4 linked regions of the Homo sapiens genome follow. The protein of the gene in region 2 interacts with the protein of the main gene of each other region in a pairwise test. Each region holds a gene or a part of one and is shown on either strand. Other genes may lie near its edges. The genes, in order: ATF2, PIAS2, ZC3H10 and ZBED1.

Region 1 (7,030 bases), on a different chromosome or scaffold from region 2:
AAAAAAAAAAAAAAAAAAGACTGTGTATGGTAGCTTTATTCACAATAGCTAAACACTAGAAACCATTAAAGTGTCCATGAGCAGGAGAATGGACAAAGAAATTGTGGTATATTCACACAATGGAATACCACTCAGCAATAAAAAGAAGCAAACTGTGATCACTCAACAACATGGATAAATCTGAGACATGCTGAGCTGGACATAAGAGTATAAAGTGGCTATTTATATGAAATTCTATAACTAATCTATGGTTACAAACATCAGAATAGATGGAGTGGACTGATCGGAAAGAGAGAAACTTTTATTCTTTTTAATTTAATTTCCTGATGACCTAAAAGAAACAGTTATTCAGGTTAAGTGTAAAGTTTAACAGTTTCTAAAAATATGGCCTACTCTTGTAAATAAAGGTATTTCTTAAAACTGGATTTGTTCCTTTTGAATTAATTTATAGAAAAAAGTCCAATGAATATGTAAAAATACTTTTAGATGCAGTACACAATAACAGGATCTCCTTTTAATATCTATATCTGCTCTATTCAGTTCCCACTGCATGGTAAATTAAATTGAATTTTTCATCAATCAGTATACTAAAATAGGAAGTGCAAAAAATGCCCCTGGTGAAGCTCTTCTGCTATCAAGTGAAGAAGATTCATCTTAGTATTTCCAAAGCTCTGACCTGAACATACTATGATGTGAAAAATTTCCTCCTTGGGTTTTTAGGGTCTTCTCTAACAATCAATAACCACCTAATTTTTATACTCTTCAACCAACTGCTGTTCATTCAGATAATATGTAAGTTTTATTGCTAAAACAGGGTGTCCTGTGCAAATTTCTGACTGATTGTCTGCACTAATGGAGAATAGCAGTAAAAATTTTTCAGGCCGGGTGTGGTGGCTCACGCCTGTAATCCCAACACTTTGGGAGGCTGGGGAGGGGGGATCACGAGGTCAGGAGTTCGAGACCAGTCTGACCAACATGGTGAAAACCCGTCTCTACTAAAAATACAAAAATTAGCCAGGCATGGTGGTGCACACCTGTAATCCCAGCTACTCAGGAGGCTGAGGCAGGAGAATTGCTTGAACCCAGGAGGCGGAGGTTGCAGTGAGCTGAGATTGTGCCACTGTACTCCAGCCTGGGTGAGAGAGCGAGACTCCATCTCAAAAAATAAATAAATAAATAAATTCAGCTCTGCAATATGTTTTAGCATGTAAAAATTTGTATTTAGTATAGTGCCTAGCAAATAACTGAAGCAAATAGAAGGTGTCTAATAACTACTAATCTATTGATTTCCTAAGGATACATTAATTAATTGCTGTTGTTAGCCCTATTATGATATAGAACGTTAACATCTACCCAATTAATCGATGTTATTAATTAACTGACATTATTGTATTATAACACAGCAAGGAGAATTACACTGATTTTTATTTTATTTTATTTTATTTTTGAGATGGAGTTTCACTCTGTCACCCAGGCTGGAGTGCAATAGTGCGATGCTGGCTCACTGCAACCTCGGCCTCCCGGGTTCAAGCAAATTCTTGTGCCTCAGCCACCCGAGTAGCTAGGATTACAGGCATGCACCACCACGCTCGGCTAATTTTTGTATTTTTAGTAGAGATGGGGTTTCACCATGTTGGCCAGGTTGCTCTCGAACTCCTGACCTTAGGTGATCTGCTCACCTCAGCCTCCCAAAGTGCTTGGGATTACAGGTGTGAGCCACTGCGCCCGGCCCTGATTTTCTTTAAAAATAGAATCGTCAGATCTTCTACTAAGAAAATTAGAACGTTTATAGGATTTAGGGTTAAGAAGTACCCCAGAAACCAAAGCTTAATCTTTTTATTTTACAGATGAGGAAATGCAATCTCAGGAAAGTTACAGTTGCTTAATTAAAGGTAGTGAATAGTGGAGTTAGGATTAAAATTAAAATTAAAATACACATCTAAACATTAATTTAATAGCATCCAAACAGCACAACAGAAAAAAATGGTTTTATCATGTTTGCTAACTTGTACACTATTTCAGAATTCTTTTTAATACTGTTAAAACCACTCATCATTATTAGCAGCACTGCCTTCAGATGATCACATCTAGTTTCAGATGTAATACTCCTATTTTCCACTAGGAGGAGAAAAAGCCACAAGAAAAAGCCAGACAAACAACAAGTGACAAGAAACAGAACTTCTAATCTGCCACTAATTTTAAAGTATCACTAACTACTCACTATGCTAAAGGAAGATTTCTTTTTTCAAATTTTGTGGTTTATCTATAGTATAAAACAGTCCGTAACTTTATAAAAATGTGATCTAAATTGTGCATTTGAAGCAGGCTTTAGTGAAAACATTAATTCAAAACAGCCTCAAGCAATGTACAGAACAAATAAAATCTGGCTTACCATTTTTGCTTCTGACTGTACTGGTTGGGGAGAGGAAGGACCTGGGATTCCTGGAACACTAGGCACCATGGTGACTGGTCGAACGAGCTATGCATGACATAAGGAAAAATAATTGCTAGAGAATATATTCAAAATGAGATTTGTACTTTACTGCTGTTGTAATAATTTGAGACTTTAAGAATCAGAACATTGTAAATTTATCACCAGCTGATTTTATCTCTATACCAAATCCTTATTTGGTCTTATATCCTGACTTATCCTTCAAAAGTTGTCAATTTCTGAGACGTGTGCTTTCCTAATTTTCAGTTTCTACAATTTCTTTCTTAATGGTCCCTGTTAGAAATTCATAATATTCAAAGTGATTAATGCAAAAATTCTCAAAGATCTGTCAAACTTCCATTTTGAATATGAAAGGAAGAATGTCAAAACTTGTGACACTTAGGCATAAAAAATAATTTCAACAATGAATTTTGCTTTTCTAAAAATATATACAATGAATTTTCTTATACATACCACATAATAACAAATAACACACTGTAATAATTTCTGAAATAATCTGTAACAGGTTTTACCATTTTGGTTTTTTCCTTTTTTTTCTTAAACCTAACACTGAGTGAACACAGTTACTGTATAAATAAAGCATATCTTTTCTTTCATTTCCGGTTGCTTTCATCACTAGGTACATGTAACAGGATAATCAGAATCTCAAAAACAAGGCAAGAATGTTTCCCTCCTCAAAAAAATATTCTCAGTAAAGAGGAAGCAGATACCTTATATCTGAGTCCTTACAAAGTCTCTCAAATAATGCATTTTGAACAAAGTTCTTTTTAAAGAAGGCACATTATCTTGAAATTACGTCAATCAATGCTAATTTTGGATAGTTTGAAAGATCACGTGGAAGAATTAGTTAATTAAAAAAAGATATAAATATCAAACATTAATCCTAGTAATATTCTTGGGGGTAATCTCACCGAAAGTGTTGGAATGTTACTATAAGTAAGCTTTTAAAAATAAGTTTTATTTTTTATTATTTTTGAGACAAGGTCTTACTTTGTTGCCCAGCCTGGAATGCAGTGGTGCAATCTCGGCTAACTACAGTCTCAACCTCCAGGCTCAAGTGATCCTCCCACCTCAGCCTTCTGAGTAGCTGAGACTACAGGTGCTTCCATCACAACTGGCTAATTTGTGTTTATTTTTTGTAGAGATGGGGTTTTGCCATGTTGCCCAGCCTGGTCTTGAACTCCTGGACTTAGGCAAGCCACCCACCCTGGTCTCCCAAAGTGCTGGGATTACAGGCATGAGCCACTGCACTTGGCCTAAAAATAATTTTTAAAAGCTACACTGTAAATGATTACACTGTACTGATCAGTAACAAGCATCTTAGAAGGTAAAAGAAAAAACTATCTTTTTATTACATAAATAAGTACCTAATGCTTGGTGTAAGATTTCCAGGGAGAGAATAATAGAGAGATTCATAAAGTAATATCGTAAATGATTTAGATGAAAAAGAAAATACTGTGTTCTGGAAACTGTGCTAGATGTCTCAAAAAGTGGTTCTCAGGATGAAAATTTGAATGTCAAAGACATAACTGAAGAGTTTGTTTGAATAAAACTGTTTTATGTAATGTAAGTAAGAAAAAAGCAATTTTCTAACACACATTATTCCAAACAATGTGTTTTTAAATGTTCATTAAACTATTACTTTTTTTTTTTTTTTGACTTGGGGTCTTGCCCTGTCATCCAGGCAGGATCCATAGCTCACTGCAGTCTCAAACGCCTGGGCTCACACAATCCTCCTACCTCAGCCGCCCAATACGCTGGGATTACAACAGGCATGAGTTGCCATGCCTGGCCAAACTATTAAATATCATAAGTAGATAGTTAACTATTTTGTCTACGTCTTTCAAAATTTATATATTTAACACACCCCTCAAAAAACTTTTTTGCGGGGTCTTTTCACAGGGAAAGTGAAAGATTATTTTTCTAGAACATTTACATTTTAACATGCTGGGCTATCAAAGATTCTACAAACCCTACTTGACCACAAAAATTCAGAGTGTGTCTTTATAAACAATTTCCATACTAATAGAAATACCACAGAGTTACCTGACAAGTATTCTAGTACAAATATCTTTCTAAAATTTGAAATCTGTGTTAATATTTGAATGCTACAAGTCCAGTCAAATTGATATGGGTTGAATAAGAAGATCTCAGTATAAAAAAAAAATTAAGGTTTTGGGGAGAAGAGAAAAAATAGCTATACCTTGAATGGTATATGCTATTACAATGATAACAAATAAATACTATCAACTGCTAATCAATATTATGTTAAATTCAATTTCATAAGCCAGTCAAGCAGCCAACTTTATTTTCTGACTACAAAGATCAGTTTTGCGATAGAGATTTAAATAGTCTAACTTTCTTACTGGGACTGCAGCTGGAACATGCACATTAGAACTTGTAATTGATGCAGGAATAGCAACAGGCATGGTTTGTCCATTAGGAAGATGTAACAGAAGAGGAAATGGGCCTGGTACAGGGCTAAGAAAAACAAAAGAAGAGAAATTTTAAAAAAGAGATTCATACCAACTGTCTCTTAAAAATACAATAGTATTTTTACTCCTATAATCATATCATTTAAAAATACATTTTCTAACCACAGCAAAGCAAATAGCAAAATTTAATTATTTTTAATTGCATCTTAAATGCATAACCTGTGTAGCAGTATTGAAAAGAAGAGAAAAGTTATGGATTTACTTAGGACAATCTCCAATTTGTAAAATGAGAAAAACTGTCATCAGAGAGCTCTTGGGAGCTACCAGTAAGAACTGAAAGAAATGGAATCTGGTGATGCAGTAATTTTATATTTTGTGTGAAATAGCATGAAAATAAGACTATCTTAAATTCACATTCTATATTTGTTTTTAGTTGTATTTATCTCCCACTCTGTTAGTTAATATTTATATTAAAGAAGACTACGCAAGTACTTTTTCCAAAATTCGAAGCATGCACACACATACAAAACTAAGATCTTAGTTTGAATAATCAAATGTCTTAGGAAAAATCATTACAAAACAAACTTAATTCATGTATATGTTCAATGATTGGCCTGAATCACTTACACAATTGGCCTGTTAGAGGATGGTGCCTGGGTGATTACAGTACTTGAGGTTGGTGAAGGTACTGCCTGCTGAATAATTACACTTGAGTCAGAACTTGTAAGCAGCACATTGGGAACCTGTAATGATGCTGGACGAACAATAGCTGATGTGGGCTGTGCAGTTTGTGCCAATGGTACTTCCTATTTAACAATGAGATAAAAAAGGGTGGCATTTAAAAATACAAATCATGTACCTTAGTGAACAGAATGTAACACACTTCTAAAAGCATCTACAGAATAATAACTGCTAAAAGCAAATTAATATCTCAAATTAATTAAAAGAACATTTTAGAAGAGCTGTAAAGATTCAAATGCAATGTTCAATTAATATTTTAATTTTAAAAAGACTCGTTTTTTTTTTTTCCAGTACAACTTGTTCTCCTATCAATCCAGAAATAAGTTAGACTGGGCAACTTGGCTATGATACCAAGAGAATTTTAATAAAAAATAAAAATATAATCCATTCTCAGAGAATCACAGAACTTAAAATCCAGAAGGGACTGTTTAGTCCCCCTCCCTCATTATACTGTATGAAGAGGAAACAGGTCCAGTGAGACTGTGTTATGGCTGATACAATTAAGTAACAGAAATAAGAACTTTTAGAGCAATACAAATAATTGTTAATTCCAGTTAGCTACCTCTTCTATATCAATAATTTCTTCATATCAAAAGGCCACGTAATACTGATATCTTGAATGTAAAATAAATAATTACCGGAGTGAACTCTTTCAAGTCAGGAAAACAGAATTTGTCAGCCAAGACCTTAAAGATGGTATTTCCTCTGGTTTTACAAATTATAGAACAAAAAGTTTTAAAAGATTTTACCCAGAACTCCTTAAATAGTCAGTGTAAAAATTGGGTCTATGGTGTTTTATGAATTGGCCTGTATGCTGCCACTTATCATCAAAATCTTATTAAGCTACATAGGAAGAAGGATAAAGTAGTAGTATTGTAACTTCATTTATTCAGTAAGTTGAGAACTTATGCTCCCAAGGACTAGCTCTCAAGGAAGAGACAATAAACAAGTAAAACAAGTAAGAAAATTTCAGATTGTAGTAAATGTTAAGTGTTACAGAATAATACGTGCAATGTAACAAAGGATGAAAGATTAGCTGAAGGTAAGGAAGAGTCAGTTAATTTAGACAGCATAGTAAGAATAGGTGAGCTTCTTTGCAAAAACAGCATTCGAACTGATGATAAAAGGATGAGGAGGAGAGCATTTCATTGTAGGGAGAAGGAAGCAATACCATATATGTCATGTCCTGAGGTAGGAAAAAGCTTTGAATATTTGATGAACACAATAGAGAGGCATGAGGTAAGGATAGATGCGTAGACAGGCCCAGATCAAAGAGGGCTTATGCCAAGGAGTGTGAATTATTTTAAATACAATGGTAGACCATTGAAAGATTTTAAGCAGGTGACATATTTAATGTATTAAAAGTCATCTTACAGAAAATGGATTGGAGGTAGAAGCAGGA
Region 2 (7,030 bases):
AAAGGAGTCAAGTGAATGTACCTACACACCTGTCTGTCACTACAGTAACACCTAATAACTGTACGTGTCCTGTCACTTAGTAACATGAAACTTTAAATGAGTAAATAGCTACTCCTTACTTAGGCAACACCAAAAGGTTGACTGTCAAAACATGTGAAATGTGAAAATCCAATGGCGGTACAAATTAGTAAATCAACATCTAAAACCTCAGCAAACATATGAAAAGCTAAACTACTTAGTGTTGGTTAATTCCCATTACCTGAATGTTGCAACCATTAATACAAATTCAACTTTACATAGAATGGCTTAAAGTAGTCATTAGTTAGGATTATCAAATTACATACTGGGAGCAGGCTTTTGTTATCAAAATCTTCACAAAGACCACATTCAGAAACAAAATGATTCTAAAGCCTATGCAAAAAATAGATATGAGTAACAGATTCCATGAAAAAATGTAAATGGCTATGGATGGTGAAATGATGGATGTAAAAATGTGATGCTATATGTTAATAAAAAGATTTAAAGCTTTTAAAACTTGTTACTGCCTCTTCATAGGATTGGTAAACACACACAGATACGTGTATACATTATGCAAGTGACCATTTATATTTTAAACGTTTGTAACTTTATCCATAATATCACAGCACAAAAGTGAATTGCTAGAATGCTGCTATATAGCAAATATTAGTATTCCGGATTATATGCTGGATCAGAGAATTGCATGAAACTCACATTTGCTCAGACTTGGATGTCTGAAAATAGGTTGACCATTTCTATTTATAACCCTGAAGTTCACTGTATGCTCCCACTTTATGATCATAAAAGTATAAAAAAGATGCAATTTTGCTACCAATTCTTAATGATTATCAATCTGGAGACATATAGATTTATCCTTATTATGTTTCCTGTCTTTAGAATACCTTCTTATTAAGGCAAAGCAACCACTCATTTTTCAGAAGGGGCACAATATGTAAAATTATCTTTTAATATGGAAAAACATCAGAGGTTTTCTAAATGTCTTAAGATTAACATACAAGTTTCTTCTGACAGGTATTATAAGACTGCATTTAAAGACTCCGGTTCGTAAGCAAAGAAAGGGAATAGGACTGCCATCAAAATGGCAATGATTCTCTCTAGGTGAGATATTTTTTGCTTTCTTCTTGGTGCTTTGTAAAATTGTTTATAAGAATAATTTTTACTAAAATAATAATACCTCTTAAAAGATAGTTGCTCACAGGCCAGGCGTGGTGGCTTATGCATTTTGTAATCCTAGCACTTTGGCAGGCCAAGACAGGTGGATGGCTTGAGCTCAGGAGTTCGAGACCAGCCTGTGCAACATGGTAAAACCCCATGTTTACAAAAAAAAAAAAAACACAAAAAAATTAGCTGGGGGTGGTAGTTCCAGCTACTTGGAGGGCTGAGGCAGGAGGATCGCTTCAACCCAGGAGGTCAAGACTGCAGTGAGCCGCGATCACACCACGGCATTCTAGCCTGGGTCACAAACTGAGACCCTGTCTCAAAAAATTAAAAAAAAAAAAAAATAGTTGCTCACATAATTTCGGGGCTGTAAATTAGAGTAAGTTTTCCTGATTTCTCATTCTCTGTTCTTTCTCATTTGCTTACTATCTTTGATGGCCAAGAAATCCTATGATAAACTTACACAGCACAGGAAAACCATAAAAACTCTAGATGCTGAACTACAAGAAAGGATATGAAAAGGACAACCAAGAACAAAGTCACAAAAGTCTAAGAGTAGGAGGGGATCACAGAGATGATATAACTATAGCATGAGCCTCCACTATGACACTGTGACAGGTGGCAGCCACTCTAACACAGAAAATATGATTTTGGGACAAAAGATTAAATTTCCTAGTATTCAGAAAGCTCCAATAGAAAGTTTATCCATGTATCTTTAGTCCACTGGACCTAAATCTGGTAATAAAGAACAAACTTAATCCAGCTAGTCATTGTCTCCCTTTTAAGAACTACAAGGTGGGTATCAAATAATCTCTTCTCCTGGTTTAACAGCTTCAGTCCTTAAGATCCACTCATCCATCTTGCTCCAGATTCCACTATTCACCTTCCCGTTCCCCTGCTCTGGCCATACTCATTTGTTAATACCATTCTTGATGATCAGCACTGACTGAAATGCTCTGAGAGTCATATAGCCTAAAATGGAACAAAACTGGCATGGTATGGATCCTGGACACTATGCTTATTTTATTAATGCTAAGAACAAACTGATTTCAGTGGTGAACTCTTCAAACCATTAACTGAAACCTGACATTTGAAAGAGTTTCTATCAGAAATGGCAATTAATTTACTGAAGGCCTTTCCAACATCCATGAAGATGACTACAAAGTTGTCCTTATGACGAGATCCATCTTATCAATGTATTTCCTAATATTAAAGCACTCCTGGGATAAACTCTAGTTGGTCACAGATGTCATTTTAATATATAATTAAATGATTTCCTAAGACTGAATTCAGAATTTTCATTTATCTTTCTATGTGAGTCTGTTTCTTAAGAGTTCTTCCGTGTATTAATGTGTATGTATGTCTAGGTTGGGTGTTAAGGGCTACATCAGCTTCATGGAACGAACTAGGTAGCTGCGCTTTATACAGACTTTTAAAATAAACTTTCATGTGTTGCTGGTTTAGTCACAAATTTCTATCTTATACTTACCAATGTTAGTTTTTGTTTTCTTTTCAGCCTAAATGAGGAACCTTAACATTTATCTCTATAGTAGCTGATCACAGATGTAAACTATCCTTATTCCTCTGCATACTGAGGTCATTTCAGATTTTGTCGCCCACTGTGTATGTGCCATCCCTCCTGTTTCATGGACTTATCAAACACAGATAAAAATGTAGTAAAGGACAGAGGGTAGACCCTTGTGGCATGCCACCAGAGACATGCTCCAAGATCACAACAACTCATGAGTCAGCATCACTAGGCATGACCTCTCAACCTGGCATGAATTCAGCCAACTGCAGTACTTGCAACTCATGTTTTTCCACTATATTCTAAAGCGTATCATTACAGAGTAAAATCCAGAAACATCACATCTAAGCATTCATTCCCCTTCAAAATACATTTTGAACGTAACCATTTCAAAATTATAACTTCATTTTCTGTTTATCATTTAAATTACAGATGTACCAACCAATTTGTCTCAAAGGAGCAATAAATGATTGGCACACCAGGAAAAAATCCACTTGAAATACTTCCTCATTTTGTTCCACACACACAAAAACCCCACCTCATTCTAATTAAATGGGTAGAAGTAAATATATGCCTTTAATATATGTGTAAATTATATTTGGAAATGTAAGTATTTTAACAGCAAAGAAGGCAGCTGAAAAGGTTTAATTCTTAAAATTATAAAAATAAACAATGTTGCAAAACAAGACATTTTATATAAAATGTCTAAACAGGCATTATAGACACAAAAAAACGATTGCCTAGATTTGGGGTGTAAATAGGAATAAACTACAAAAGAACATGAAGAAAGTTTTTTGGGTGTTGAAAATATTCTACTACTGAATCATGGTGATGATTGCACAGCTCTATGTATTTACTAAAATCACTGAATTGTGCCATTATATACTTAAGATGGGTACATTTTATGCTATGTAAATTATAACTCAGTAAAGCCATTAGAAAACCAAGTGGACCAAGAGGCCAAAAAGATGACACTAGCAAACCCAAGTTTGAAAGAATGTGTTCGTAGACAGCCAGGAGAACTCTCCTGTTATCTCCTTTTATGGTTCAAAACCTCTCTGAAAAAGCAACTATTGTTAAATACCCAAACCTGATTTTTAATGCAGGTCAGTAATGCCTTCTGCCAGATAACTTACAGAGAATCCACGCTAAAATTCAGGTAGAATGCCATCCTACCCACCTATATTTTGCCCTGGAGAGGGTGAAAAGGGAAAGGAATCAATTTTTATTGGGAAATTACCACATGCCTGACACCGAGGCTTTCTTTCATCTCATTAAAACCTGAAAATGATCCTGTAATATAGGCGTTATTTAGCTCCATTTAACAGAACACAAAAAAGAGGCTCAATCAAATTAAGTATTTCATCTAAGATCACAGAACAAGTAAGCGATGGTGTGCCAAAATTGGAATCCATACTTGTCAGATTCCCAGTTCCACACTCCATTACACCAGACTTTCTCATCTGGTCTGAGATGCCAAATTTCCTTACAAACAGGTTCAAGAAAATAACAAAAAGTCTCAGGTAGGAAATAAATACCTCACACGCTCACTTTCCAAAGATGTAAATATTTTCTCCATCAAAATTTGCTTCCTATAAACAATGTGCTTACTCGAAAATATTTCAACTCAACAAAGGCAAATTAAAATAGCCTTCTACAGTTATGCCATTTCCCAAAGAGACATTTATAAATCTATCCAAGAGCAATTAGTTGCAAGGGTAATGAACAATAGTGAACTATAAATTAACAAACCCTTTGGTTGGGCTGCTTTGTGTTTCTGACATAAAGATGCATTTCCTTTTGGCAGGAGGGTCTTCCTCTTCGTCAGAAGAGCTTTCTATTGTAAGATCAATAACATCTACTTTCTTCTTGCTTGCCTCACTGGCTACAGTCACTGAACAAGGCTTACTGAGGACGCTTGAACCTGCATGTAAAGAAACAAAAGGAAAAAAAAATTAAAGGTATAACACAAATAAACTCTAGTGGTAGAGTCTAGTATATTCAGTATAGTATGTTCCTGACAACATATAGCCAGTGAAGCCACATACTCCAACCCATGGACAAATACCAACTCCCTAACTCCAGACCTCTGTCTGTAAAATGGTTGTTCACCTAGGGAGACAGGTGAGCACTATTCCTTGACAGATGGTTAGAAGTCTCATTCAGACAGAATGTTCTTAGTTATGCCTCCAATACCACTGAAGGATTTGTGCAGCTCCTACTGCTCATCCTGTCTCTGCAGGTCAGCAGTCGTTTTACAGAAAGACACGCAGAGTTAGGGAACTGGTCTCAGGTCATGGGACAAGAATGGGTGAGTTCAACAGCTATGTATTCTCGCACACATGTGGCACAGTTAGCTCAGAACCAGATATTTCCATTCTAGCAATTATGCTTATATCAAAGAAAGTACAGACTTTTCACCATAAGCCAGAACTTGATAAAAACTTTCATCTTGATAAGTTGAAAAAAACCCAAACCTCTCAATTAAGTTACTAAGACATTTAAACTTTTCTTATGAATTATCTGCTAATCACGTAGGTTCTTTCTACCCACAAAGACAGTCTCACATACCATATTTGTTAACTCACATTTTCACAGAAAAGTATGTTATTATCTGTAATGTATTTAGTTAAAAATGAATGACAGTTGATAATGGAAAAGCAACAGAAACTTATCAACTAAATCACTCCCCATTTTTCTGAAAGATGAGAGAAACCTTGGTCACTGCACTCAGGTTTAGTGTCAATCGCAGAGGAATAATTAATAATGGCATAAATCCTTTATTTTTTCCCCTTTCTTCTTACTCCATTCATTACATTGTTTGTTAGAACTTCAAATGTAATCAGAACAAAACTGAAATGCAGTGAGTAGACTGTTAGATAAAAAGAAACTCTAAGTTCACGTGTGGGTTTCAATGAGACTGTTAGATAAAAAGAAACTCTAAGTTCACCTGTGCGTTTCAATTACTCCAAATGCCCTCAGTTTCCCTACTTAGTGTGGATGGATGCAGGCAGTTGATGGATGAGTATACATTCTAGGTAATCAAGGCAATGTTAAAATTCTTCTCCACAAAGAAATGGAAGGTAACAATTTGTTTACTTTCTGAGCAACTAACCTGTGACCATCCCCAAACCACCAAGGCCATTAACCAATGATGCAGCCTCTCTAACCTCACCTCCACCTAGGGTTCCACCTACAGATACTCTAAGAACAATTCTGAAAAACTGTCCATATAAATTCATTTGTGACTTTTTGTTTTGTAACAAACATCATATTTTAAAATGATTTTAGATGAATGTTTCCTTTATTCTACACAGGAAAAATATACTATGAAATAGCTGATAAGATGGTATAAACTTTAGCACATTCCTTCAGGAAAGAATAAAAATCATTTGGGGGAAAACTATATATCATCAAAAGACTGAGTCAACAAGCTGAATTCCAAACGTATAGTTCTAGGGGCCAAGATTAATGATAATGTTGCACGAGTCTCACTGCTTTACTCTCTGCTGCTATTCTACACATACTTTCTATTTTTGTACACGGTTGGCTGGATACTTTCATAGCTTCTTTCTTCGGTCTCATTGGACACCAAGAACCATCTTCTTGGAATTTGATCTCATCTACATCAGAACAGTCATTGAGAATTTCCATAAAAAGCCTAAAAAACAATTAAGAAGTACATACATGTGATCAACAGCTTTGCCTAAAGGTGAAATAAGAAAGTAATACACATTACCTTGAAAACATAAGTAATGTTAGCTGACCCCCTTTTCTTTTGGTATTGCAATACTTTATACTTTACAACAATTATTACACTCCCTTTGTCCTATGTTTTAAATCTGTAACAGGCAACATAATAGTTAAGTAACTTACTGAGCATCACCTGTGTAACTCAATGAGTATAAATGGCTAGAGAGAAGTAGATACCTGGAGCCTCCTAGCTGAGGCTGGCAGTAAGAACAACCTCTAACACAGCACAAAAAACAAACATCAGCAGATAAAGGTTACTATATAGTAAAATAATTTATAAACTTTAACTTCGAGAAAAAAGGATAATGGGGTAGGGGAAGGAGGGAAGAAAAGGGAAATAAAAGAAGTCTCAATAAATTTAAAATAAGTGTATTTGAATTAAGTTCAAATTAAGTCCGTACCAGAAAAACCTGAAAACTTGGAAACTAAACAAAAGAAACATGAGTCAAAGATAAAAATAAGATTTTAAACTGAATGAAAATAAAAATGTAATAAAATTTGTGGACTGTATTATTTAAACACTGAAGTAGTATTTAAAGGAAAATTTATAGC
Region 3 (7,850 bases), on a different chromosome or scaffold from region 2:
CCTCCTCTAGCAGTCTGCACTCCACCCCTCGCGGTGGAGCCAAACTATATTCATATGACTCAAAATGAGGGCCATCAGGGGGGCAGCATCCACCTCGCCGGCGTTTTGGGCCTGGCTCATGGTCCTCAAAGCCCCTGTCAGGAAGGTCATAGATATCATAGAGATCATGACGTCGTCCTGGGAGGACTGAGCCTGTTGAGCCCCCACCAGTGCCTCCTCCACCCCGAGCATCAAACTCAAAATCCCGTTGCAGGTGACGGAACTTGCACTTGGCTCCTCTCTGACAGTCACCCTTGAGAAAGTCACGGCAGATAGGGACCTCCTCCTTGCCATTTGGTAGGTCAGCCGGTGAAAGGCCAAGGCCAGCTGCTACTTTCTGCCTCAGCCGTGGGGGAAGCTCTCCTGTCTTCTTATAGCCATCCTCATCCTCCTTGGAGCCATGGATGAAACGGCAATTTGGGCGGCTACACTCCTTGTTCTGGAAGTCATGGCAGAAGATGAACTCGTTTTTGCTCACCCCCAAGTTGGACACCTCGCTCATGTCTGGGTGGCGATATCGGCAACGCTTGCCTCGCTTGCACACATTCCTCAAGAAGTCTCTACAGATGGCATCTGAGCTGGCCCCGCCACTGCCTACCCCTGCCCCACTGGCCTCCTCGCTGCCACCACCTCCAGGGCCTCCACCGCTGCTCCCGGTACCGTTGGCATAGCTGTCCCGGTCAGGCATCCTGGTCCCGCCCAACTCAGGGTTTTCTTTATCTTGCCACTCTTGGTGACCACTACAAAAGAGGAGAACTGTATCAAACAGGAGTCCTCCAGGGAGATCCCACTCTTCCTGACTATAAAGCAGGTGGCCCAGAGGGGCAATGGCTTTAGAGATGGAGAATCTAAGGGATAAGAATTCTGGCTGAAATGTCTGACTCATCAAAAGCCCCTCCCAGGGTTTTGTGCACCTGGTCTGGGTCAGAATGATTCACACTTGCCTGGCTAACGGAGGAGGGATAGGCCCAGGACGGAGCAGGGAAAAAATAGTGTTGGAATTCATCTTTCCTTTTGAGCTGACCTTATTAAAGTTGTGGAAGTGAAATTAAAACTGCAGTCAGTATCTGAATAGTCTGGAAGGAAACTGGGAATAGTGCCCAAGATGGGCTACTGAGCTACTAGGGCTGTAGAAGATGGGACACTGGTAACAAAACTTCCTTAACCCCCTTTCCTTTTCCTCAGGTAAGGGCTCTGTACACATCAAATCTCTAGAAGCCAAGAAATCCTGGGTGAAGAGACTGGTGTCACCAGCTTGAGGGGAGTCTCAAAACCTGTCATATTTTAGTATTCCCTCCCAGCCATCATCACTGTCAACGGCAGAGAGGTAAGCCCCTTCTATTTCAGGATAGGAGTTCTAAGTTAGAGTCTCCACTTCTAGATTTCCTAGGACAAACCATTTGTGATAAGGTCAAGTGGGAAGGAGTTAATTTCACAGGAACAAGTGACCTTTCCCCATTCCCCACCCCCTTCCTACTCCCCTATGTGAAGATCCCACTGACATCCAACCACACCATTCCTCAACCCAGAAAGATCCTCTTTATTTATAGACTCCATAAAAGCTTTTTAAGTCTCCTATTTCCCAAGAGAGCTTTGGAATGTCAGTCCACTGCCCTGGTTCTAGCCCTCCCCTCTCTCCACCCCCAGTAAGACCTGGAGTCCCTGCTACCACGTGTCTGACCTCCCAAGCCTTTCCTATGCGGTGTTCAGGCTCCCCCTGCTGCTGAAATAGGAAAACTTCATATTGTTCCCTTTGAGAATAAGGGAATCTTTCCTAATTCCTTTGGCCTTGACCTACCCCCACCCCACTACTGTGACTTTGCCTTCAGATCTCCCTAAAATGAACTAACCAAACCAGAGGCCAGAGTTACAAGAGAATCTGTAAGAGGGTCCTCCTCCTCTAAAGAGAGGTAGTCCCAGAATAATAGAAGCAATCAAGGAAAGAAGTGGTAAAAGAAGATACAAACTTTTAGTAAAGGGGAATGACCAGGTGAAGTACAAATGCCATCTATCCAAGCCTGGCTCACGTTGCAAGTCGCACCAGCAGCAGATAATTAGTTATGATGCTCCTCCCCACCCCACTCTCCCAGAATTGATACCTGAGGTAGCTCAGGTGAAGTCCGGGGCTCCTGTGGGTCTCCACCTCCACATCACTGCTGGGTTCTGAGCAGGAAAAAAACAGAGACTTGGGTGGAAGAAGGAGTAAGAGTGGAGGACTATGGGGTGGTTGTCACAAGAAATCTGACAAAACGGCAAAGCTTCGAGAACGTGAGGATTTCCTCAGGGTTCAAACTGAACTTCACCTGTCCAAGGGAGAAGTTGCCAGTAAGAAGAGTAAAACTAATTCGGAGGGACTGGGAGGAGGGGTTGGAAAACCAGCCCTGAGTGAACAAAGAGTGCGGGGCGCCCTGCCTCAAGATGAAAGAGGATGTGAGGGTCAGAGCACCGCCAAGGGCTGGAGTTAGTAATGGCTAGTGAGGAACCTCAAAAAGGCAGCGTCTGACAGTGCATTGGGATGGCCGATTAGACTTGAAGGCAGTGATTGTGACGCTTCCCAACACCCTAGAGTTTGCGAAAGAAGTCCTAGGAGTTTTCCCGCAGCAAGTCTTCTAGCTTGGCAGGTTCCGTGCAGTGCCGCCGGCGCTCAGCCGTGGGCTACGTGAATGGGACACTAAGGGCGCGCGAAGTGAAGCGGGGAGCTGGAGCTCCAGGTGTCATCAAGCTGAGGGGATGGGCAGGGTTGTGACGTCACGAAGCTGGCGTTTGCTCGCGATGCGGGGTCACTCAGAAAAGGGGCACTGCCCTGGGGTGTGAGGACGAGCCAGCTCGGTTCTGGGGGGCCTTCTGTGGCCTGGCCGAGCCCAGCCGCTGGGCCGGCCCCGACTCCTCCCCTCCGGGCGCGGCCTCCACCTAAGTCTCCCGCCTCCCTCACCTGCCGCCGCCGCCGTAGTTGCTGCTGCCGCCTGCCGGTCCTCTAGCTTCGACAAAGAGCCGCCTACCCGATCGCTCTTCCGCTTCCTGCGGAAGAAGTGACGCTCTAGCCAGCAGACCCGGAACCATACTCTATGGTGTATGAAGTACGCGTGCGACATGCCGCAGGGCGTTCCCAGCACGCTTTGCGTGTCACTATGGCAACCCAACCCAAAGGCACGACATGGTCTAAGCGGTAGTCGCCAAGGCAGCCCTCCTGGAAAGGGGCGGTACCAGCATTGGCCCCTAATAACCCGCGAAACCTAAAACCTGCCTCCAGAGACGTACCATATCCCATCCAACTCCAGCGAGATGCAAACCACACCACGTAACCCGGGCTGTTGCCTTTATAGCTTTGATACCCTCCATAGCACAGGTAGTGACAGGGCAAACTCTAATGACAGAAAACCCCCACCCGATGGAACCATAAAAAACATAATAGACAAGATGATTTAATTCTTCAGCTAAAACAGCGGAAGAGGTGATTTATTATATGGTTGTTACACTCGGCCACAAATAAACACAGAAATAGTCCAGAATGTCACAGGTCCAGGGCAGAGGACCAACATGGGCATTTTGTTTATGAGCAAGGTGGGTCTCAGAGGTGATCGGCGATCAGAGGGCGATGAAGTTCTAGATCCATTGAGACAAGCTCTAGACAGTAGCATGCAGTCCCACAACTTGTACCAGCATCCCCAGCGTCTGGCATTCCATGTTTCTGCTCCTGTGGCCTCCACGGTGCAACAAGCTAGCGGTTTACTTGGACCTCTGCCTCATCTTTCTTCTTTTGCGCTTCAGCCTGAAAAGCAGACACAGGAATGGAATACACCTCAAACCAGAGTTGCCTTTCCCTCCCACATTAAATCAAACGTCCACATAAAGAATGAGGTGGTAAAATGAACAAGCACTACGGTTCTATCGTTCTCTGTTCTGTTAAATCCTGGCTCCAGGGAGAAAACACTCAAACGTTTTTCTCCTAAAGATCTTTTAAGATTTCCAAACCAAATGTTTCTCCTAAGTTTTGTCCAAGGAACTTCCCTCCTCCTGGGCTGGCAAAGTCTCAACGTACCTGCGCATTCGCTTCTTCCTCCACTAGCAACCGATCACAAGCAGCAGATAATTAAAAAAAAAAAAAAAAAAAAGGGATGAAGCTTATTAGTAGGCTTAGCAAGGATATGAAATGCACTCTTTAGAACCGGACAGATTCTTAACCAAGAAGTATGAAAGATTGGTCGTAACAACTACATCAGTAACTTGGACACCCTCCCAACATAAGATCAGAATTCCACCCTTTTCTAAGCCCACCCTCTCTACCCATAGCACTTAACCGCTAGCTCTCTCACAAACTACCTTCTCTCTCCCACCAGCTCTTGGGCACCCTTGAAACCCAGTAGTTCAGGAGGTATGGCGGACTTGCCTTCGTCTCCTCGCTACTACTCGCCAACTCCTACCTCCCAAGCTTACTACCAGGAACCGCTCACCTTGGCTCTCATGGCGCAGAGGTTTCTACAGGGAAAGAGAGAAAGGCTACAGTTAGTTTGCTGTGATGATGCTAAGTGCCGAGGTCAGATGTCTATGGATTGTACACGGAATCCCAACGCAGGAACCAAAAAACACTCACCCAAAAAAATGGCGCTAAGGCCGAGAGAAAGGCGAAGTTCCGTCTACGGCTATTTAATGGAGCGCCGGGTGTCGTCACTTCCGCTTTCACGCCCTTTGCCCCCCCCAAGGGCGGGGCTACCCAATGGGCGTAACAGTGGTTTTCGGACCCTCTTGTAGAAGGGTAGGTTGAGTTAGTTCTTTCGGAAGACCGAGTATTTGGTTTTCGAGTTACCAGTTCCCCCCCAGATTTAGTATGAGGACGCTGTGTTATTTAAACGTCAGCACCTATTTCCAATATTGGACCTAGAGGTGCAGACGGGGAAAAAATAGTGACCGCCACCTTCCCTCGCATTGCTTCTTGGGAGTTGCAGTTCCCTGGAGAAGTCCTCCATTTTGCTATGGATAGGCGCGGACTGTACAGAAATTCTTGTTTTACTGGTTTGCCTTCTTTTCTTTCTTTCTTTCTTTCTTTCTTTCTTTCTTTCTTTCTTTCTTTCTTTCTTTCTTTCTTTTCTTTCTTTCTTTCTTTTTTTCTTTTTTGAGACAGGATCTCACTGTGTCACCCAGGCTGGAGTGCAGTGACGCGATCTCGGCTCACCGCAATTTCCGCCTCCTGAATACAAGCGATTCTCCCGCCTCAGCTTCCCGAGCAGCTGGGACAACAGGCGCGCGCCACTTGGCTAATTTTTGTATTTTTAGTAGAGACGAGGTTTCGCTGTGTTGCCCAGGCTGGTCTCGAACTCCTGAGCTCAAGCGATCCGCCCGCCTCGGCCTCTCAAAGTGCTGGGATTACAAGCATGAACCACCGCGCCCAGCCGGTTTGCCTTATTTTCTAAAATAAATTGCTGCAGGGTGATTCGATTCCGGAACCATCGAAGGTCCTAAGATTTCAGAACATAGGAAGATATAAAGTGGGGATTCGGGAAAGCTGCCATACTTCAAAAAATATTTTCTCACTGTTTAAGATAGAGCAATTATTTTTCCTAAATTTCAAGAATAAAATAGCTGATTATGGTCTTCCCCCACGATGCCCGAAGCAAAATATCACTAGAGATTCCTGGCTACAATGCATCATTTGTTCAGAAAATACGTCAGCGGGCTGGGCACGGTGGCTCATGCCTGTAATCCCAGCGCTTTGGGAGGCTGAGGTGGGGGAATCTCGAGCCCAGGAAGTCGAGGCTGCAGTGACCTATGCAGTGATTCTCTAGGGGTGAAGAGCGAACCAACGGACATAGGGAGAAAATTACCTAAATCTAGGGAAAGTATGACATTTGGTGTTAAGATAAAGAACTTCCCAGTTTGATTGTATGCTCAGGTGAGAAGCACTGGAAAACAACCAGATCCCCTAAGATTTGGCTACAGGAAACTTTTGAGTTAATGGGGGATGAAAAAGAACCCTTTCCCTATAGAGACTTCATCTTACAGTTTTAAAATACTGTAACATTTTGTATGTGATTGTTACAATCCCTCTTTTTTTGTGGTTTCCCTTTATTATATTCCAGGATAGCATTTCACTTTCAATCCCTGAAAAACGTTTTTAAAATTAGGTTCCTTCTAAGTAGTTGTAGTATTGTCACCACCCAAATATATATGACAATTTTTTTGAAACAAAAAAAATCCTAGCAGAATTATTTTGTATCAGTTCCACCAAGATTTCAACTGATGATTGCCAACTAGTTTATAAGCTCTTTGAGGGAAATTTTGTTTGCTTGTTTTTGATACGGAATGGAATCTCACTCCTGTCACCCAGGCTGGAGTGCAGTGGCGCGATCTTGGCTCACTGCAACCTCCGCCTCCTGGGTTCAAGCGATTCTCCTGCCTCAGCCTCCCAAGTAGCTGGGATTACAGGCGCCCGCCACTAAGCCTGGCTTTTTATATTTTTAGTAGAGATGGGGTTTCACCATGTTGGCCAGGCTGGTCTTGATCTCCTGACCTCAGGTGATCTGCCTGCGTCGGCCTCCCAAAGTGCTGGAATTACAGGTATAAGCCACCGCACTTGGCTGTTTTTTTCTTTTTTTAATAGACTTAATTTTTTAGAACAGTTTTAGGTTCACAGCAAAATTGAGAAAGGTATAGACATTTCCCACACATATAGCCTCCCCCTTTATAAACATCACTCCACCCTGCCAGAGTGGTACATTTGTTAACAATAGAACCTACGTTGATATACCATTATCACCCCAAATCCATAGTTTAGTTTACACTAGGGTTCACTCTTGGCATTGGCATTGTACATTCTTTGCCTTTGGACAAATGCGTAAGCAAGGAGAGAGAGATGAACAGGCAAAACACAGAGGATTTTTAGGGCACTAAAACTACTCTATTTTAATGGTAGATATACATCATTACACATTTGACCTGTGTTCAGTTCTGTTCACTTGTAGTATCTCTAGTTTAGCAATTCCTGACATGTAGTAAGATAAACTAATTACCCATCTGACCTTAGTCTGGCCCTGAAAACTAGTGTACCATTCTTCCTGGCTTCTTGAATTCAAGATAAACACTTGCAGTACTGTTTTTGCAGTAGACATTGTGTCCTAGCCCCAAACAAATCTTAGCAGTGAGGACTGTTTCTACTTAGAAAATTACACCACCCAACTCCAGCAGATTACTATATCATCAAAGATTCTAAGATTTGTGTCTTCTGCAAGTCAAGACATTCCTCGTTTTGGGAAGGTAGAGCATGGCACTGTGGAGGAACAGTTCCAATACCACTTCAACTGACATTCTCCCCACCTCCATCAAACAAGAGCAGCATACAAAGCACATCATTATGAGCAAATCCAAATTTATTTTAATGTCATGTCATTTTCAATGTGTTTAAAAACCTCATAAGTTAGTGGGAGCCCTAGTTTCCTGGGACAGCATGCCAGAGGTACTGAAATTTGTCACCTTTCTCTACAAACCCCCAGCAATCCAATCCAAGTCCATAGCTTCAGAAAGCCAGGAGTTGTGTCTTCAGTCAGTCTACGCCTCTGGTTCTTGGTTTTTCTTTCATGGGAGGGAGATCACAATATTTCAAACAGGGAACAAAACCAGTTGAGCTTCCAGCTCAGGTCTGTGTAAGATGGAGCGAGGAAAGACCCCACTGACTCCAGAGAAAAAGGGTAAGGTTGAGATGGATTATTTCTTTACAGCTTTGTGAAAATGGAAGAAAAAAGATTTACAAATGAGGATCCATTTCATAGATGAGAATCTCTTCATAAATGAAGGCTCCAGCTCCTAAAATGGGAGGGGCC
Region 4 (5,072 bases), on a different chromosome or scaffold from region 2:
AGAAAGGAAGGATTTGTTGGCTGAAGAAGAGAGGGAGGGTTGGACGGAAGGAGGAGGGAAGGAAGAGACCATGTGAGAGGAGGTGAGGAAGACAGGAAGAGAGGGGTGATAAGGAGGCTGGGGGGAGAGGGAAGGCGCTGATGCCATCCGGATCCATCCAGGCTGCCTCGTCCATGGGGCCTCCGTTTATACAACTATCCACTAAGTGAAGGAACCGGCAAAAATCTCTGCTCCCGGGGAACACTTTCACCAGCTGCCGGCTTTATTCACTCAGAAATTTTGATGCCAAAACACCCGAAAGTACATCATAACTTGAGGATTTACAGACAAGAAAGAGGAGCACAGAACTGACCGTGGGTGCCCTGGAAAAAGTTGCTTTCAACAAGGACCACAACAAAAATAAAAATAATAATAATGATAAACCTCCCTCCACTCCCAGGATCAAGGGGTTCAGACAAACTGCAGTCCAGACGGACACGCGGCAGACAAATGAATGAGGAGCTAATGCATTGCTCTGGTTTATTGAACAACAGTCCAACTTTACAGCATTAAATAAGGGGCAACCGTTCAGGAGGGGAACGATGGCTTAAAAATAAAAATGAAGACAGAGCCGGGACAGTTCACATTTCCACGTGAGTGAGGAAAAGCGAAGGATTGTTAGAGACGTGAAGAGAACGCTGGCAATGCTACAGAATGGAGCCCACGGAGGCGTGGGCTGCCCTGCGTCCCCGGCCTCGGGGCAGAACAGGGAGCAACCCCAAAGCCTGCCCCACTGTGTCCCTTCCAGCTGCCCTTCTGCCGAGAACACCCGGAGCTGAGGGTTCCAAGTTCACGGCGGAACCGCTTCCCTTAAAAAGAAAGCAAAGGTTACGTGGATTTCTCCCGTGCTTCCTTTTCCACAGACTTAAACCGGCTCAGGACGTAAGGATAACATTCTGTGCTGCTTGCAGCCCTGAGAAGTCAGCAGCCGTGAAAGGCAGGTAGTTCCTTTGCCCTCTGACACCCCGAGTTCTTGGGGTCTCGGCAGAACACTGCCTGGAGCTGAGTGGGGTCATCCCTCCTAGACACCGTTCTCCCCAGCCCAGCTTGTCTTCACGGAGGCAGAGAACCCGCTGCACGTAGAATCCAAGCAATATGCTAAGCCTCCTGAAGTATTTTTCCTCCAGTTAAAAAGCAGTTCTACATGTTGGAAAACGTCTTTCTGTTTCCCTGAATGACTGAAAGCAACTCGCAGGAATCCAGCCACGGAAAACCCCTCCGGGGGCAATATTTTAAAATTCATTTCCCCTATGGTATTCAGTTTAAAAGAGAAGAATCAAGAGTCCTTTCCGGTAATCAAATCAAAAACACCTTATGTGGAAAAGCTGGCCGCACGGGGGAACTGGACTTTTAGGGCTGAGACACCGAAGACATAACCTCCGGACCCGTGAGCCACCCACTTTTGTTTTGTTTTGAGACGGAGTCTCACTCTGGCCTCCAGGCTGGAGTGCAGTGGCGTAGTCTTGGCTCACTGCAACCTCCACCTCCTGGGCTCAAGCGAATCTTCCGCCTCAGCCTCCCGAGTAGCTGGGATTACAGGCGGGTGCCACCGCATCTGGCTAGTTTCTTGTATTTTTAGTAGACACGAGGTTTCACCATGTTGGTTGGCCAGGCTGGTCTCGAACTCCTGACCTCAGCGTGAGCCACCACGCCCGGCCACCGCCCAGTTTTAAGGACCAACTCCGCAAAGTGAAATTTCGGCAGGCAGCAGGAAGCAGGCTCTCTGGCAGCAACCTGTCGAAAATACAACACATTCCACACTTTTTTTTCTGTTTGCTTTTTGTTAAGTGTCTGCATTTTTGTACTCATCTGTCACATTTTTAACCGAACATTAAAAAAAAAGGTCTCTCTTTTTAAGAAGGGCATTTTGGCTAAAAGGTCTCTTCCCCATTTCTCAGAAGCAAGAGGTCCCTGCTTGCACGAGAATGTAAACATGAATTCAGTGATCTGGACCTCGCAGAAGTCACACATGATGATCGGGAAAGGCTCCTTCGACGCCACCCAGAATGTTCCTGCGTTTCTTCTAAACCCTCCCAGGGAGAACTCGAATCAGACATGGTGGAGGTCTTAAGTATCTGTGAAGGAAGGAACAGCTCCTCTAGGCTCTGCTGCACGCAATTCCCAAGCAGAAGCGTTGGCAGTTCCCAAGCAGAAGTCGTCCGGGCCCCGGGAATAGGGGAGGAAAGGAAACCCACTCAAAGCCACCTCTCTTGTGTCTTCTTTTTTCTTTTTGAGAGAGTCTCGCTCTTGTCGCCCAGGCTGGAGTGCAGCGATCTCAGCTTACTGCAACCTCCACCTCCCAGGTTCAAGCGATTCTCTGGCCTCAGCCTCCAGAAGCTGGGATTACAGGCACATGCCATCAGTCCTGGCTAATTTTTGTATTTTTAGTAGAGACGGGGTTTCGCCATGTTGGCCAGGCTGGTCTCGATCTCCTGACCTCAGCTGATCTGCCCACCTCGGCCTCCCAAAGTGCTGCGATTATAGACAGGAGCCACCGCCCCCGACCCTCTCTCACTTCTCAAATCTCTTTCCTTTTTCCACCTTCTAGGTGTCAAAGACAGTGGATGGTCTCTGAGGTTCAAAACCAAGCTGACCGGGTAAGTATTTACAGCAAAGCATCCAATGGGCTGCTGCGGGGATGACTTGTAAGACAACACGCTTCCTCGCTACAGGAAGCTGCTGTCCCTAATGCCAAAGAAACCGCCGCTGACGCCATCCCCCAAGGAGAACACCTGCTCCTGGTCCAGGCCCCACTCCCCCTCGTCCTGGTCCTCGGGTTCCGCCTCTGCCCCACTCCGGGCGTTCTCATACAGAAACACCTGCTCGTCCACGTGCGCGGGAGCCAGCCGGTTCCTCTTGGCGCTGACCACGTTGGCGGCGGATCCGAAGAGACGCTCAGGGGCGACGCGCGTGGCCGTCACGCACCAGTACTTCTGCAGCACCTTGGGCAGCAGGGGGAAGAGGGCCAGGCGGTCTGACCACCACTTGAGGGGGTCTTCGTTGAGGCCAAGCACCTTCTGGGACTTGAAGTTGCTCAGCTCCTCCACCACCTGGGCATGCCACTCTTCCTGGTCCTCCACGCCGCCTGTCTGGCAGAAGATCTCGGCCAGCATGTTGTTGATGACGCTGGCGGGCGGCGGCGTGGATGTCCGCATGAGCTTCTTGACGGGAGGCTCCTCGGGCACCGGGAAGATCTTGTCCTCAGCCGGCCGGTAGCCGCCGTCTTTGACCTTGTCCAGCAGGCCCTTGGCCTCTTCCACCACGCGATTCTCCACCTGCTGCCGCTCGAAGGCGGAGAGGAAGGGCAGCCTCTTGTAGCGGGGGTCCAGGAAGGTGGCCACGTTGAGAAACATGTCGATCTCGGGCGTCTCCTGGTAGGTCTTGGAAAGCTCCTTGGCGATGACCTCCTTGGCCATGCTGAGCTCCTTGGAGTCGGTCTCCTTGATGTTGAGCGTGGTGTTCAGGAGCATGTGCAGCAGCGGCTTCACCATGCTGATGGTGGGGTACCTGGAGGCCGACAGCATCTCGGCCACCTGCTTGAAGGGCTGCAGGAGCTCCACCAGCCCCTCGATGGTGGCCCACTCGCTGGCCTCCAGCATGAGGTGGTGGTTGTTGCTGTCCTCCACCAAGACCCCGGCGATGACGAACTGCTGCTCCTTGAGGCGCTGCAGCATGGCCAGCGTGCTCCCCCACCAGGAGACGCGGTTGCTCACCAGCATGCAGTGGGCCACGTTCTGCTGCTTCTGCTTCTCATAGAGCATGTACATGGCCACGGCAGACTGCTGGAAGTACTCCACCAGTTTGCGGCAGCGCGACAGCAGCGCCCCCAGCTTCGGGAGCTGGAAGGCCTGCTGGATGCCGGCATTGAAGGTGTGGCCCAGGCAGGGCATGTGCACTGCGACGTCCAGCAGGGAGCACGCCTTCACGATGTCCTTGCCATAGTTGGTGGTGGCCCCGAAGACCTTGGCGCTGATGCCCCACTCGATGAAGACCTCATAGAGCACTCGCGTGATGGTCTCCGCCGTGTTCTCTTCGGGCACCTCGAAGGTCTTCAGGCAGCGGGAGCCCATGGACAGGCAGTTGGGGGCGCCCAGGCCCAGGAAGTGGGCGGCCAGCGTGACGTAGGCGCGGTTCTGATTCTCACTCCTCCACATGTCGGTGGAGATGCCACACCAGGTGGCCTCGGCCAGCTCCTTCAGGATCACCTCCCGGACGGCCCCGTACTTCTCAGGGATGGCCTTGGTAGAGATGTACTTCCGGCTGGGCAGCTCATACCGGGGGTCGGCCGTCTTCAGCAGCACCTTGAAGGTGGGCTCGTCCACGATGGAGGCTGGGTACAGCCCCTCGCAGATGAGGCCCAGCACGGCGGCCGTCAGCTCCTGCTGCTTCTTGCTGTCGTAGCCGTGGCCGGCCTTGACGGCCAGCGCGTCCTGCCCGGGCTGCTGGGACGACTCGGGCTTCAGCTTGGAGAAGGCGGTGGCGAAGGCTTCACGCATCTGCTCCGTGTTGCTCTTGACGAACTCGCAGAATTCCTCGGGGTGGTTCTTCTCCAGGTGGTAGGACAGGTTGGAGGTGTTTCCGGAGTAGGCGATCTGGGCCATGCAGATGCGGCAGTAGATTTTCTTCCACTGCAGGATGCATCCCTCGGCGTTGGTGTCGAAGCCGAAATACTTCCACACCTTGCTCTTGGCGCGGGGGTGGGCCACCAGCTTCAGGTCTGTCTGGGAGCTCTCCAGGCTTTTATTCTCCATTGCTTCTCCACCGGAGCCTGCCTGCTGGACGGCTGCTCATGCGTGGGGACCTGCTGAGAAGGGCCAAGACAAACACAGCATGAGAAGGGACCCAGGCACGCACGGGAGCCCTGCCGGGGAGACAGACAGGGTGCCGGGGCAGCTCCGCTTTCAACCAAAGGGCACTGGGGCCGGACGGCTGGACCTTCCTTGCGGGTCACTTTTGCAGAGTGGAGGAGGGAACCTAGCGCAGGAATACGCTCTTTCTTCCACGTTAATCCGACTGCAGCGATGCCGCACGTG

What was found.
Region 1: the proteins of PIAS2 (region 2) and ATF2 interact in binary tests that used the Homo sapiens proteins (3 or more experiments, as listed by UniProt).
Region 3: the proteins of PIAS2 (region 2) and ZC3H10 interact in binary tests that used the Homo sapiens proteins (3 or more experiments, as listed by UniProt).
Region 4: the proteins of PIAS2 (region 2) and ZBED1 interact in binary tests that used the Homo sapiens proteins (3 or more experiments, as listed by UniProt).

Annotation. Positions count from the first base shown.
Region 1 is NC_000002.12:175,109,176-175,116,205, forward strand, and holds part of ATF2 (cyclic AMP-dependent transcription factor ATF-2), read right to left. Parts: intron 5,694-7,030; coding exon 5,515-5,693; coding exon of another isoform or gene 5,511-5,514; exon of another isoform or gene 5,068-5,510; intron 4,934-5,067; coding exon 4,819-4,933; intron 2,480-4,818; coding exon 2,393-2,479; intron 1-2,392. UniProt on the Homo sapiens protein: Transcriptional activator which regulates the transcription of various genes, including those involved in anti-apoptosis, cell growth, and DNA damage response.
Region 2 is NC_000018.10:46,823,482-46,830,511, forward strand, and holds part of PIAS2 (E3 SUMO-protein ligase PIAS2), read right to left. Parts: intron 6,387-7,030; coding exon 6,253-6,386; intron 4,650-6,252; coding exon 4,478-4,649; coding exon of another isoform or gene 4,462-4,477; exon of another isoform or gene 1-4,461. UniProt on the Homo sapiens protein: Functions as an E3-type small ubiquitin-like modifier (SUMO) ligase, stabilizing the interaction between UBE2I and the substrate, and as a SUMO-tethering factor.
Region 3 is NC_000012.12:56,113,440-56,121,289, reverse strand, and holds the start of ZC3H10 (zinc finger CCCH domain-containing protein 10), read right to left. Parts: upstream 3,025-7,850; 5' UTR 2,972-3,024; intron 2,874-2,971; exon of another isoform or gene 2,523-2,873; intron 2,343-2,522; exon of another isoform or gene 2,203-2,342; 5' UTR 2,139-2,202; intron 780-2,138; 5' UTR 728-779; coding exon 1-727. Other genes in the region: RPL41 (small ribosomal subunit protein eS32), read right to left, coding at 3,766-3,808, 4,079-4,101, 4,491-4,502. UniProt on the Homo sapiens protein: Specific regulator of miRNA biogenesis. Binds, via the C3H1-type zinc finger domains, to the binding motif 5'-GCAGCGC-3' on microRNA pri-MIR143 and negatively regulates the processing to mature microRNA.
Region 4 is NC_000023.11:2,485,930-2,491,001, forward strand, and holds the end of ZBED1 (E3 SUMO-protein ligase ZBED1), read right to left. Parts: intron 4,844-5,072; 5' UTR 4,791-4,843; coding exon 2,706-4,790; 3' UTR 506-2,705; downstream 1-505.